2 separate regions of the Homo sapiens genome follow, and region 2 is linked to region 1. Evidence: fine-mapped expression QTL. Tissue or cell type: whole blood. Region 1 holds a variant in brackets; the other region holds the start of a gene. Each region is shown on its reference strand, or each on the opposite one.

Region 1 (5,365 bases):
TGGAACCTCATTCTGCATAGAACTTTTTCAAAGTCGGAGGGAGGAGGTTGCTCAGAGTGGGGTGTTGCCCTCTGCGAGGATTTGGAGTCCCCTGGCCTCCCAGCAGGGAGTGGAGAGGCATTCCCAGAAGCATCAGCTTCGGGCATCTCCAGAACCCTGGCTTGGTCCCTGACCAAGGAGTGTCCCCAACTGCTGAATAGGCCAGGAGTCGCCTTTCTCTAAGGCTTACATCTCTCCCTCTGGGGTGTGTCCTGCCCCTCCCTGAGTCACCCCAAGGGGAGAGAGGGGAAAAAAGGGAAGAGAAGAGAGGCATTGACTACAGAGGAAGGAAAAGGAAGCAGAGCAGAGGGGGGAGAGAGGCCACACAGGAGTGGGTGACAGAGGAGACTGCAGAGGGCAGGTCTAGGGCAGAAGATCGAGAGAGGGCAGGCCCAGGTCAGGAGGAGGTAGAGAGAGGGCAGCCGGAGCACCCCAAGGGGTGCCTCAAGAGCAGGTGGGGGCGGGGAGCCGAGGGGGCGGGCCGGCCATGTCCCACGGGACCTACTACGAGTGTGAGCCCCGGGGTGGCCAGCAGCCACTCGAGTTCTCAGGGGGCCGAGCTGGGCCCGGGGAGCTAGGGGACATGTGTGAGCATGAGGCCTCCATTGACCTCTCCGCCTACATCGAGTCTGGGGAAGAGCAGCTTCTCTCCGATCTCTTTGCCGTGAAGCCAGCGCCTGAGGCCAGAGGCCTCAAGGGCCCCGGAACCCCTGCCTTCCCCCACTACTTGCCGCCTGACCCTCGGCCCTTTGCCTACCCTCCACATACCTTCGGCCCAGACAGGAAGGCGCTGGGGCCTGGCATCTACAGCAGCCCAGGGAGCTACGACCCCAGGGCTGTGGCGGTGAAGGAGGAGCCCCGGGGGCCAGAGGGCAGCCGAGCTGCCAGCCGAGGCAGCTACAATCCCCTGCAGTACCAAGTGGCACACTGTGGGCAGACAGCCATGCACCTGCCCCCAACTCTGGCAGCACCCGGCCAGCCTCTGCGCGTTCTCAAGGTAAGAGCAGGCCAGCCCTCCTCCCTCCTGCCCGGGGCTGGAGAGGCTGGTGTGGACAGGACCCTGTGCCCCGGCTCATGCTGCTGAGCCTGTGCTTGGTGTCGCTCTGTGAAATGGACCCAACCCACAGTCCTCTGTGTTCACACCCCACCATGACCTCCCTTTCCTTCTCTGTGAATTCATTCCCACCCTGAATCCCCACCCAAAGCCCCTGTGGCAAGCTGACCTACTTGATCTCAGGCCCCCACCGCCAGCCTCTCTGCTGCTCACCATGCCCCCTCCTCTTGTTTCTCTGCCGCCTGCTTCTGTGAGAAATGTCTACTGGTCATAGAACGGGAGACTCAAGGCAGATTGAGGGAAAGTGTACTCAGAAAGTGTGAGAGCATTGGCTGGGTGTCGTGGCTCATGCCTGTAATCCCAGCGCTTTGGGAGGCCAAAGCAGGAGGTTCGCTTAAGGCCAGGGGTTGGAGACCAGCCTGGACAACATAGCAAGGCTCCATCTTTACAAAAAAAGAAAGAAAGAAAGTGTGAGAACATGAAAGGGAGTTTTGGTCTCAAGCAGAGGACCCTGTGCATCTGGGTCACCATCTCCCAGAAGCAGAGCGATGATAGTTTTGACCTGAGAGACAGGAGCTGGCTCTGAGTCCTGTATTCCTTTGACGCATCAAGTGTGCCCTGGCTGCCGAGATTCCCGCCCCGCCTCCGCTCTGCCTCCTGGCCAGCCCTCACCTCTCCGTCTCTCCGTGCCTTCCCCTCCAGGCCCCTTTGGCCACTGCCGCACCCCCCTGCAGTCCCCTCCTGAAGGCGCCCTCCCCGGCTGGCCCCTTACACAAGGGCAAGAAGGCAGTGAACAAAGATAGCCTTGAGTACCGGCTGAGGCGGGAGCGCAACAACATCGCCGTGCGCAAGAGCCGAGACAAGGCCAAGAGGCGCATTCTGGAGACGCAGCAGAAGGTGCTGGAGTACATGGCAGAGAACGAGCGCCTCCGCAGCCGCGTGGAGCAGCTCACCCAGGAGCTAGACACCCTCCGCAACCTCTTCCGCCAGATTCCTGAGGCGGCCAACCTCATCAAGGGCGTGGGGGGTTGCAGCTGAGGCTGGCTGGTGGATTGTGGGCACCAGGCTCCCTGGCACGGCCTAACTCTGCGGACCCCCATCCTGCTGGGGGCCTAGAACCCTGAGACATAGACCATGGATAAATGGCAACCGGGGTGGCAAAGAGGGCAGGACCCAGCATAATGATTATATGGCTGAATAAAGTTGCACTGTGACTGGGTGTTGGGACTGTTGGCTGTGTGTGTGTGTGTGTGTGTGTGTGTGTGTGTGTGTGTGTCATGGAGGACCCTGGGGACAGAGGATGCATGTGGCTAGGTCTGCACCTCTTGTTTCCATGACCAAGTGGACATGTGGAAACACAGACATGCTGTCCACAGCCCACCCCCAATATACCACACAGCCAGGCCGTGTATCTGTCACTCTGCTCTTCTCTCCCTGACATCCCCCATCACCCCCTTCTGTGAGCTGAAGGCACATCCCCGCCCCCCACAGGACCTGGAGCACCTTTGTATGCTCTGCTAACAAAGATCTTCAGCTTGTAGGGAGATCCCGGCACCACACAGTCCTTCATGCCCAGGCCTGCTGATCCCAGGCCCACTCTCTCTCACCTTGAGGTATAGGTCTGGGAGCTCCTGCCCCAGGTGACCATGGGAAAATTCCTGATGGCTCTGCCATATTTATGGTCCCTTGATCCAGCCCGCCATCTCTTCTCTCCA[T/G]TTCCAAAGCCTCAGTCTACCAGATGGACACCCTCCCCACGCTGCTCCCACCCATTCATTTCCATCCTTTGTCCCTCATCCCTGAGGCTCCAGTTCCCTAAAGCTTGAGAATTGAGTGCATGGGACAGGAATCGGTTGGGAAAGACCTGGAGACCGGATTTGTGTATGAGAACACTGGTAGTGAGAAGGAGGATGACAATCTGCCCGTGCCAGGGAAACCCATCATTCGAAACAGCATTTTCTTTTGCATTGGACTACAGCCTAAGAGACAGAATGGTACAATAATTAAGAGCCTCAGTTTGAATCTTACACTGCTACTTACTAGCTGTGAGCCTTGAGCCATTATGTCTTTCTGTGCCTCAGTTTCCTCATCTGCAAAATGGTTGCAATATTTGTCCCCACTCCGTAGTGTTGTTATATTCATAGAAAAAGAAAACTTTGCATGTAATAAGCATATTTATTATGATTCCTCCATTTTGCTGGAACTGAAAGGACCTCAGAGATCTCATCTAAACTCATTTTGCAGGTAAGAAAACAGGCTGCAAAGAGGGGAAGGGACTTACCTGGAGTCACACGATTGTTTAGAGGTAGAACCAAAATTGGCTCTGTAAAATCGCAGATCTCAAGATGTGCTGGGAGAGACCTCAAGAGATCATCTGGTGGGCTCTGCCCTCAGACCAGCAAGGTAGGGTGAGCCACATTTTACAGATAAAGCAGTTGAGGGCCAGAGGGGTAAGAGGCTTCTCCTGACACTCACTGAGTCCCTTTGCTGCCTCAGTACGTGGTACCTGTCTCTCTACTCCACGCTACACTCTTCTCACAGATCCTCAGTACGAGTGTCACATGAATCACATTCAATAAAGAACAGTGCCCAACAGTGTCAGGGACCCAGGGACAGATTACGGGCTTCTTAAAGTCTCTCCTAAGCCAATGCTGTGAAAGGCTGAGTCAGACATCAAGGAATAATTTTCTGAGAAGGTGAGAGACTGGTGTCTGGATCATCCCAGATCTCTCTCCCTTCTTCAAATCTCCAGCGGTAGAGCCCTCCCACACCTCGGGCATCCGTGTGCGGCATGTCTACCTTGCCCAGGACTCAGTCCTTTTCCTGCCTTTGCCTCTGTGTCTCTCGGGCACCTCTGTGTCCTGGAGGCCCGTGCCCCAGGTCTGGTTTGGAGGGAGAGATCTGAACCTTCAGTGGAGGGACCGACTGGAGCTTCCTGAGTTCAGAAGGAGGGGAGGTACCAGTCTCTGTGGGCACCTGGGAGAATCCTCACACCTTCCTTTCAGCCCAGGGGGATAGGTTGCATAAGGGGGGTTTGTACAGAACATGGTAAATGACTCAACCTCCGGATTTCCTCCTCTCAGCTCAAGACCACTGTCCCTTGACTTACTTTCAAGGTTCTGGGTGATGGGACCTGGGTTGCTTCAGCATGAAGCCCAGGCTTTGTTCCCACAGCTCTGAATTGCTTCTCCTCTCAGGCCCCCGCTCACCCAGTCAGGTCCTCAGGGCCGGTGCCTAGTGGAGCCTTCCTGACTGGCACCCAGTCTGGGGGAGTCACATCCCCGTCTCCCCACTGTGATCCCAGCGTGACGTGCAGCAGCTGAACACATCCCAATCCTCTGCATCAGATCATATTCCAGGGGTGTGAGTCAGAGCCAGAGGGCACACTTCCTGAAAGAGGCTTTCAATCTGACCTCAATTGGTTTTGGCCAACGTAACTTATTCAACAAGTATTTGTTGAGTATCTTTTCTAGGAATGAGACAAGTTCTCAGCAGAAGGAGTAGGAAGAAAAAGTCAATAAACAAGTGTGCTGAATGTCTTCCTTTGCCCCTCCAGAACCCTCTCCACCCTTCATCACCCTACACAGTCCCCAGGTGGATGCCTCCCTACATCAACCAGCCTCTCATGGGGTGGGGGTGAGACTGGCAGGAGGAGAGTGGTGGGAGCCCCCTGCTGACCGGCGCTCTCCACAGTCCCTCCCAAAGGATTCCTGGCCCTCAGGCGCCCCCCGTGCTGGGCTAGCCCAGGGGACTTCACCACTCCAGGAACTTTCCCCAGATACTGTTGGTTCACATCTTCATAAAGCACCTTAATTAACTTCTCCTGCTTACTCCATTTGAATAGCCCATTGGGGAAACCACATAAACCAACAGGTAGGGAGGCTATTTTAGCTGGGGTGGCCGAGAAAGGTATCTCTGAGGAAGTGACATTTTAGTTGACACTTCAAAAATTTTGAGAAGGAGGCAGGTATGTCTTTGAGTGTAAGGGTGAACAGAGGGAAGGGTAAATGCAAAAGCCCTAAGGTGACCGAGAGAAAGGAAGCCAGGAGTAGATGCTGAATGAAAGAAGGAAGGAGAGGATAAGTAAGAAAAAGATGCACCTTCCCTCCAGAATGGGGCTGCAGGGGTTGCAAATGACTATTTTCATTCCCTCTGTCAAGGAGGATGGTGCCTAAGAAGCCGGGGCAGGTGGAGAGCAGGGTTCTCTCTGCCCCTGGATTCAGCTTCCCTGCCCCTTGGTCCTCCTGGCACCTTTACCACAGTAAGGTTGTCCCC
Region 2 (5,338 bases), not on the chromosome of region 1:
ACTGGAATCTAAATCCTCTAGGCCATTTTTTCACCAATGCCCTTATTTTCTTAGGGCTTTTTTTTTTCTTAAATCAACAGTTTTATTGAGATATAATTCCCATTCTATAAAATTTCCTCGTTTGAAGTGTACAGTTTAATAGCTTTTAGTATATCCACAGAAGTGTGCAACCATCACCATAATAAATTTTAAAACATTTTCAGCAGGGCGCAGTGGCTCACGCCTGTAATCCCAGCTACTCAGGAGGCTGAGGCAGGAGAATTGCTTGAACCCAGGAGGCAGAGGTTTCAGTGAGCCGAGATTGCACCACTGCAATCCAGCCTGGGCCACAGAGTGAGACTCCATCTCAAAACAAAACAAAACAAAGCAAAATAAAACGAAGCAAAATAAAACAAAACCAAAACCCAACAATTTTGAACATTTTCATCTTACCACCCTGCCAAAAATCCCTGTTCTCCTTAGCCATCAATCTTCAGCTCCCTACCCACTTCTAACCATGAATCTATTTTGTAGATTTGTCTATTCTCGATATTTCATATGAATGAAATAATATAATATATGGTTCCTTGTGACTAGTTTCTTTCACTTAGTATGTTTCCAAGTTCATCCATGTTTTGGTATGTATCAGTACTTCATTCCTTTTTATCATGGAATAATATTCTGTTGTATTGATATACTACGTTTCATTCATTCATCTGAACATTTGGATTATTTCCATTTTTGTCTATTATAATAATTCTGCTATGAACACCCATGTATACGTTTTTGTGTGGACATGATTTCATTTTCCTTGGATATACACCTAGCAGTAGAATTGTTGAGTCATAAAGAACTCTAGGTTTAGCTTTCTGGGGAGCTTCCAGATTATTTTCCAAAATGGCTGTGCCATTTTACATTCCCACCAGTAAAGTATGAGGGTTCTAATTTTTCCCTGTCTTCACCAATACTTGTTGTTATCTATCTTTTTTATTATAGTCATCATAGTCTGTATGAAGTGATTTCTCACTGTAGTTTTTTCAGTAGTAATTAAAAAATTTCCTACCTATTTTAGCCTAAAATTACTTTCCTGACTCTCTTCAAGGAGCCTGCCAGAGAATTCTCTCTCTCGTGCTGTCTCCCTTATGCCTGGGCATAAGCTCTGATAATGCCCTGTCTGGGAAAACTCTTTTGGCCTTCTCAATTTCTATTACATTGAGAGCCCAAGAACCCATGGTCAGTAACAGGCCAATGAGAAGCCTCCTGCATTAGTCTAGGTGAAGGATAATGGTGGCTTGGACCGGAATAGGGTGGTAGTCATGGAAATGGGGAGAATTTGACAGACTAGATTTATTTTGGAAATAGAACTGAATCTGAACAGATTGAATTGGGCAGGGAGCAGGGAAAGTGAAGGGGAAGGAAGACACCAGGTTTATGCCTTCAGCATTTGGGTGGATGAATGGATGGATGAAAGGATAGATGGATGCATGGATGGTGGTTGGATGGATGAGTGGTTGGATGAATGGACGGTCAAGGGGTGAATAGATGGGTGGATGGAAAATGGAGAGATGATGAACTGAGATGGGGAAGACTAGAAGTGGGGCATATTTTTGGGGAAAGACAGTTTTGCAATACGTTAAGTTTGAGGTGCCTCAGAGTCATAAGAGAGGATTTGTCAGAAAGGCAGTTGGATATAAGATTTTGAAGCTCAAAAGACAGGGAGGGCCTGATGGTATGTTTAAACCTATACGGATATCACATAGGTAACATTTCAAGCCTAAGAAATGGGCCGGGCGCAGTGGCTCACACCTGTAATCCCAGCACTTTGGGAGGCTGAGGCGGGTGGATCACTTGAGGTCAGGAGTTCGAGACAAACCCAGCCAACATGGTGAAACCCCATCTCTGCTAAAAACACAAAAATTAGTGGGGCATGGTGGCACATACCTGTAGGCCCAGCTACTCAGGAGGTTGAGGTGGGAGAATTGCTTGAACCCGGGAGGCAGAGGTTGCAGTGAGCCAAGATTGTGCCACTGCACTCCAGCCTGGGCGACAGAGCAAGACTCCGTCTAAACAAAACAAAACAAAAAAAGCCTTAGAAATGGGCAATGCCACCAAAGCAGAAAGATGAAAGGAGGGCAATGCCCTGAGGTGTGCCAGCATTGGAGGAAACAAACAGCCAGAGATGTAGGAGGAAAGCCCAGAGAAACTGTGAGCTGCAAGGATGAAGTAGTAACAAATAAAATGCCACCAAGAGAACCAGAAGGACGACTGGAAACAAATAAACAAGAAAGACTATTGCATTTAGCAACGTGAAAACGTTGGATTACTTTTTACTCAGAAATCAAACCCCAAGGATAGTGTTTCCCCTCCCTACAGGGGTTTCTGCAGGTCCCTTTACACGCCCCCCTTCTACTTCTTTAAGTGCTAAAAGTGATTAATTTGGGGTGATGTTTTAATTTCTATTCTTTTTGGCTTATAACTGTGTTTTTTCATTCTTTGCAACAACAGATAGTATGTTGTAATAGAAAAATCCATTGTGGTCAATGATAACTTCTGCCTGTTCCTGGGCACAGGGGGCATCACTATTAGTGCCTGTTCCTCCCTCCCTACTGCTGATAAGGAAACAGGGGCAGGAATAATACTAATAATTTGTGCTACTTTTTCTGCATACCCTTGGCCTTATTCTGGTCTACTGAGCTGGGAGCTTGTCTGAGGCTGGAGCTCTATTGTCTGAATCCAGGGGCAGAAAGAACTGAGGGCTCTTTTACGGCATCCACCTGGAGGCTGCCTGCAGGCTTGGGTTGCTAAGTGCACTGCTTAATTTAGAAGCGCCTTTTATCCTGGCTCTCTTGACCAGTCAAAGTTGTGGTCGCTGTTTTCTACAAGGACTGGGGAAAGAAAGGGTGGAATTAATTAAACCTGGAGGAAGGGACTTTGAAGGGCGGAGCTAAGGTCAAAGAAAGAACCCTTTAAATAAAGGGCCCACACTGGCTGCCAGGGAGTGCGCAGGACTGGCAAGAGGGAAGCCGGGCTGCTCCACGCCTTTCACGCCTTCCACCTCCTGCGTGTCCATCTGTGAGAAGGAGCCAGAGCCCAAGGGAGATGATGGAGCCTGAGGAGTACAGAGAGAGAGGTGAGCAACGGGCATCCCTGGCCCTCTTCCCTGCTGCTACTCCTGCAGGAACGGCTGCTGGTGGGTGGCCCTTAGATTCTGGGGTGACATTTGATGGGAGCATTAGAATTGCCTTCTGAGAGTTGGCACCAGCAACATTTTTTTTTCTGCGAAAGGAATGTGGGATCAGAGTGTAAAACTTTTCTCAACCACTCTTTCATTCTCCCTCTCATATACCCACTCTCACATATGTCCACACTACCGTGCCTTGCTTTTCCTCCCCACTTTCCCACAAAATTGAGGATTTGGATCCCTGAGCCACTAGATGGGAAAAGGGGATTGTTCATATTCTGAAATAGAAAAAAATTTTCTCAATATTCTGTAATCACTGCAAATCCTTTCTTTCTTAACATTCATTCCTTCATGTGTGAATCTATCAGCAGTGTTCTTTCATTTAGTCATTCATTTCATAAATATTTAGTAGGTGCCTACTCTGTATCAGGCAAAACCAAGTGGTTATCCAGTTCTCAGGCATGGATCTCCCTTAGCAGGAAAGTAGGTAGTTGCTTAAAAAAGAATCTTGAATGTCTATTTCTATAATGTTTTATATCCTCCTACTCACTAATTAGTGTGCGTTAGCTTATTCCATTGCTTTCCTAAGGCACTGTCAGCTGAGAGCAAGTTCCTGTGGATATTTATCTTCTGAGTGGAACACAAATACATTTAGCACTGTTCCTGGATCAGTGGAGGGTTAGGTCTAGAGCTCTCAGATCTCTGGTGGGGCCCTGCTGGAGAAGAACCAGGATGTGAGAGGGTTGAAGGGGAGCAGAAGGAAGATAGAATGGTGTGGAAATCTACCTTTGTCTCATAAGTTTTGTCTGGGGTTGGTTCTGTTCTTAAGAACTTTGCATAAGCTGATGCAGAGGGGAGAAACTGAGTCCCCTCTCCTAGGTAAAAGCAGCCCAGGGAGTACTAAGGAATGGATGTTGAGACAGACAAAGAGATATGTACACACACACACATGCACACACAGCAACAGAGGCACTGAAGACTGCAATCTGAAAGAATAAATAATTTGCAATAGTTTCAGAGTGTTCAACTTGACTTTTTTTTCCTTCCTTACTCATATGTTCATTCACTTGATACATTTTTTTTTAGCATCTAAAAAATATCCTAAGCACTGAGGTGTTGATGGAGGCAGCAGGAGGGAGAGAAAGTCATTAAGATTTGGTGCCACATTTCCCAGGCCAGGGCAGGGGGCTTGGTCTGGATCCATGGTTGTGCTTTAGGGATTCTGTGAGCCTCAGAAATTATACACAAAGTTCTGTGTATATGTAAGCCTACAGTTTTAATCAGATTCTTGAATTAAGTCCTCATATGAGTCCAAAAAAGATGAATAATAACTGATTCAATGGGGATGGTGAAAAAATAGATTTTTTTGTCCTTTATCGGAACTGGGCATGGAATCTTTCTATCTGTGCTAACAGATATAACTGGTGGGTGTGTGTGTAACAATTTTTGGATACAAAGAGCTATAGAGTTTCTATTGAACCTATAAAATAGTTAATAGATGTTCTGTTTCTGAGAAGGAAAGAAAGGTAGGAGAGACAATCAAAATTGAAGTGGATAAAGGAAGGGGAAAGAAAATGAAACGTTTCACTTTGGCGCTAGAGTTTTGTGCTTTGGAGATTTTCCTTTTTGTTCATTTGCTCACTTAGAAACTCCCTCCATCATTCATTCACTCCCTCACTCTTTTTTTAAATTCTGAAGATAAGGTCGTGCAGGGGATCAGATCCTACCCTCGGCCCATGAATCTGTCTCTCTCTTTTTTTTGAGTCCAGGCTGGAGTGCAGTGGCACGATCTCGGCTCACTGCAACCTCCGTCTCCCAGGTTCAAGCGATTCTCCTGCCTCAGCCTCCCAAGTAGCTGGGATTACATGCGCCTGCCACCACGCCCGGCTAATTTTTTGTATTTTTAGTAGAGAGGGGTTTGACCATGTTAGTCAGGATGGTCTTGATCTCCTGACCTCGTGATCCGCCTGCCTCAGCCTCCCAAAGTGCTGGGATTACAGGCATGAGCCACTGTGCCCGGCCAAATCCATCTCCTTCTTTACCAAGTCTCTTGGCCCGGACCTGAGAGGGATGGGCACAAATCGGTCAGGCCCAGTCAGGGGATTTCAGCCTGATTTCTCTATGTCACTTCTAGGGAGAGAGATGGTGGATTACATCTGCCAGTACCTGAGCACTGTG

What was found. PIP is the estimated chance that this variant, and not a neighbour inherited with it, causes the effect.
Region 2: it holds the start of HDC, and the variant in region 1 is the best candidate, but not a certain one, in a credible set for the expression of HDC in whole blood (TOPMed, PIP 0.52).

The regions. Positions count from the first base shown.
Region 1 is chr14:23,114,253-23,119,617 of GRCh38, reverse strand. CEBPE (CCAAT enhancer binding protein epsilon) reads left to right here and starts at 363. Exons shown (of 2, transcript NM_001805.4): 1 at 363-1,036; 2 at 1,796-2,312. The coding sequence starts at 527. The coding sequence ends at 2,131. RefSeq lists enhancers at 3,653-4,852, 5,018-5,365. The variant T/G (reference allele first, on the strand shown) is at 2,809.
Region 2 is chr15:50,263,364-50,268,701 of GRCh38, reverse strand. It overlaps HDC (histidine decarboxylase), which reads left to right and starts at 2,976. Exons shown (of 12, transcript NM_002112.4): 1 at 2,976-3,109; 2 at 5,295-5,338. The coding sequence starts at 3,079.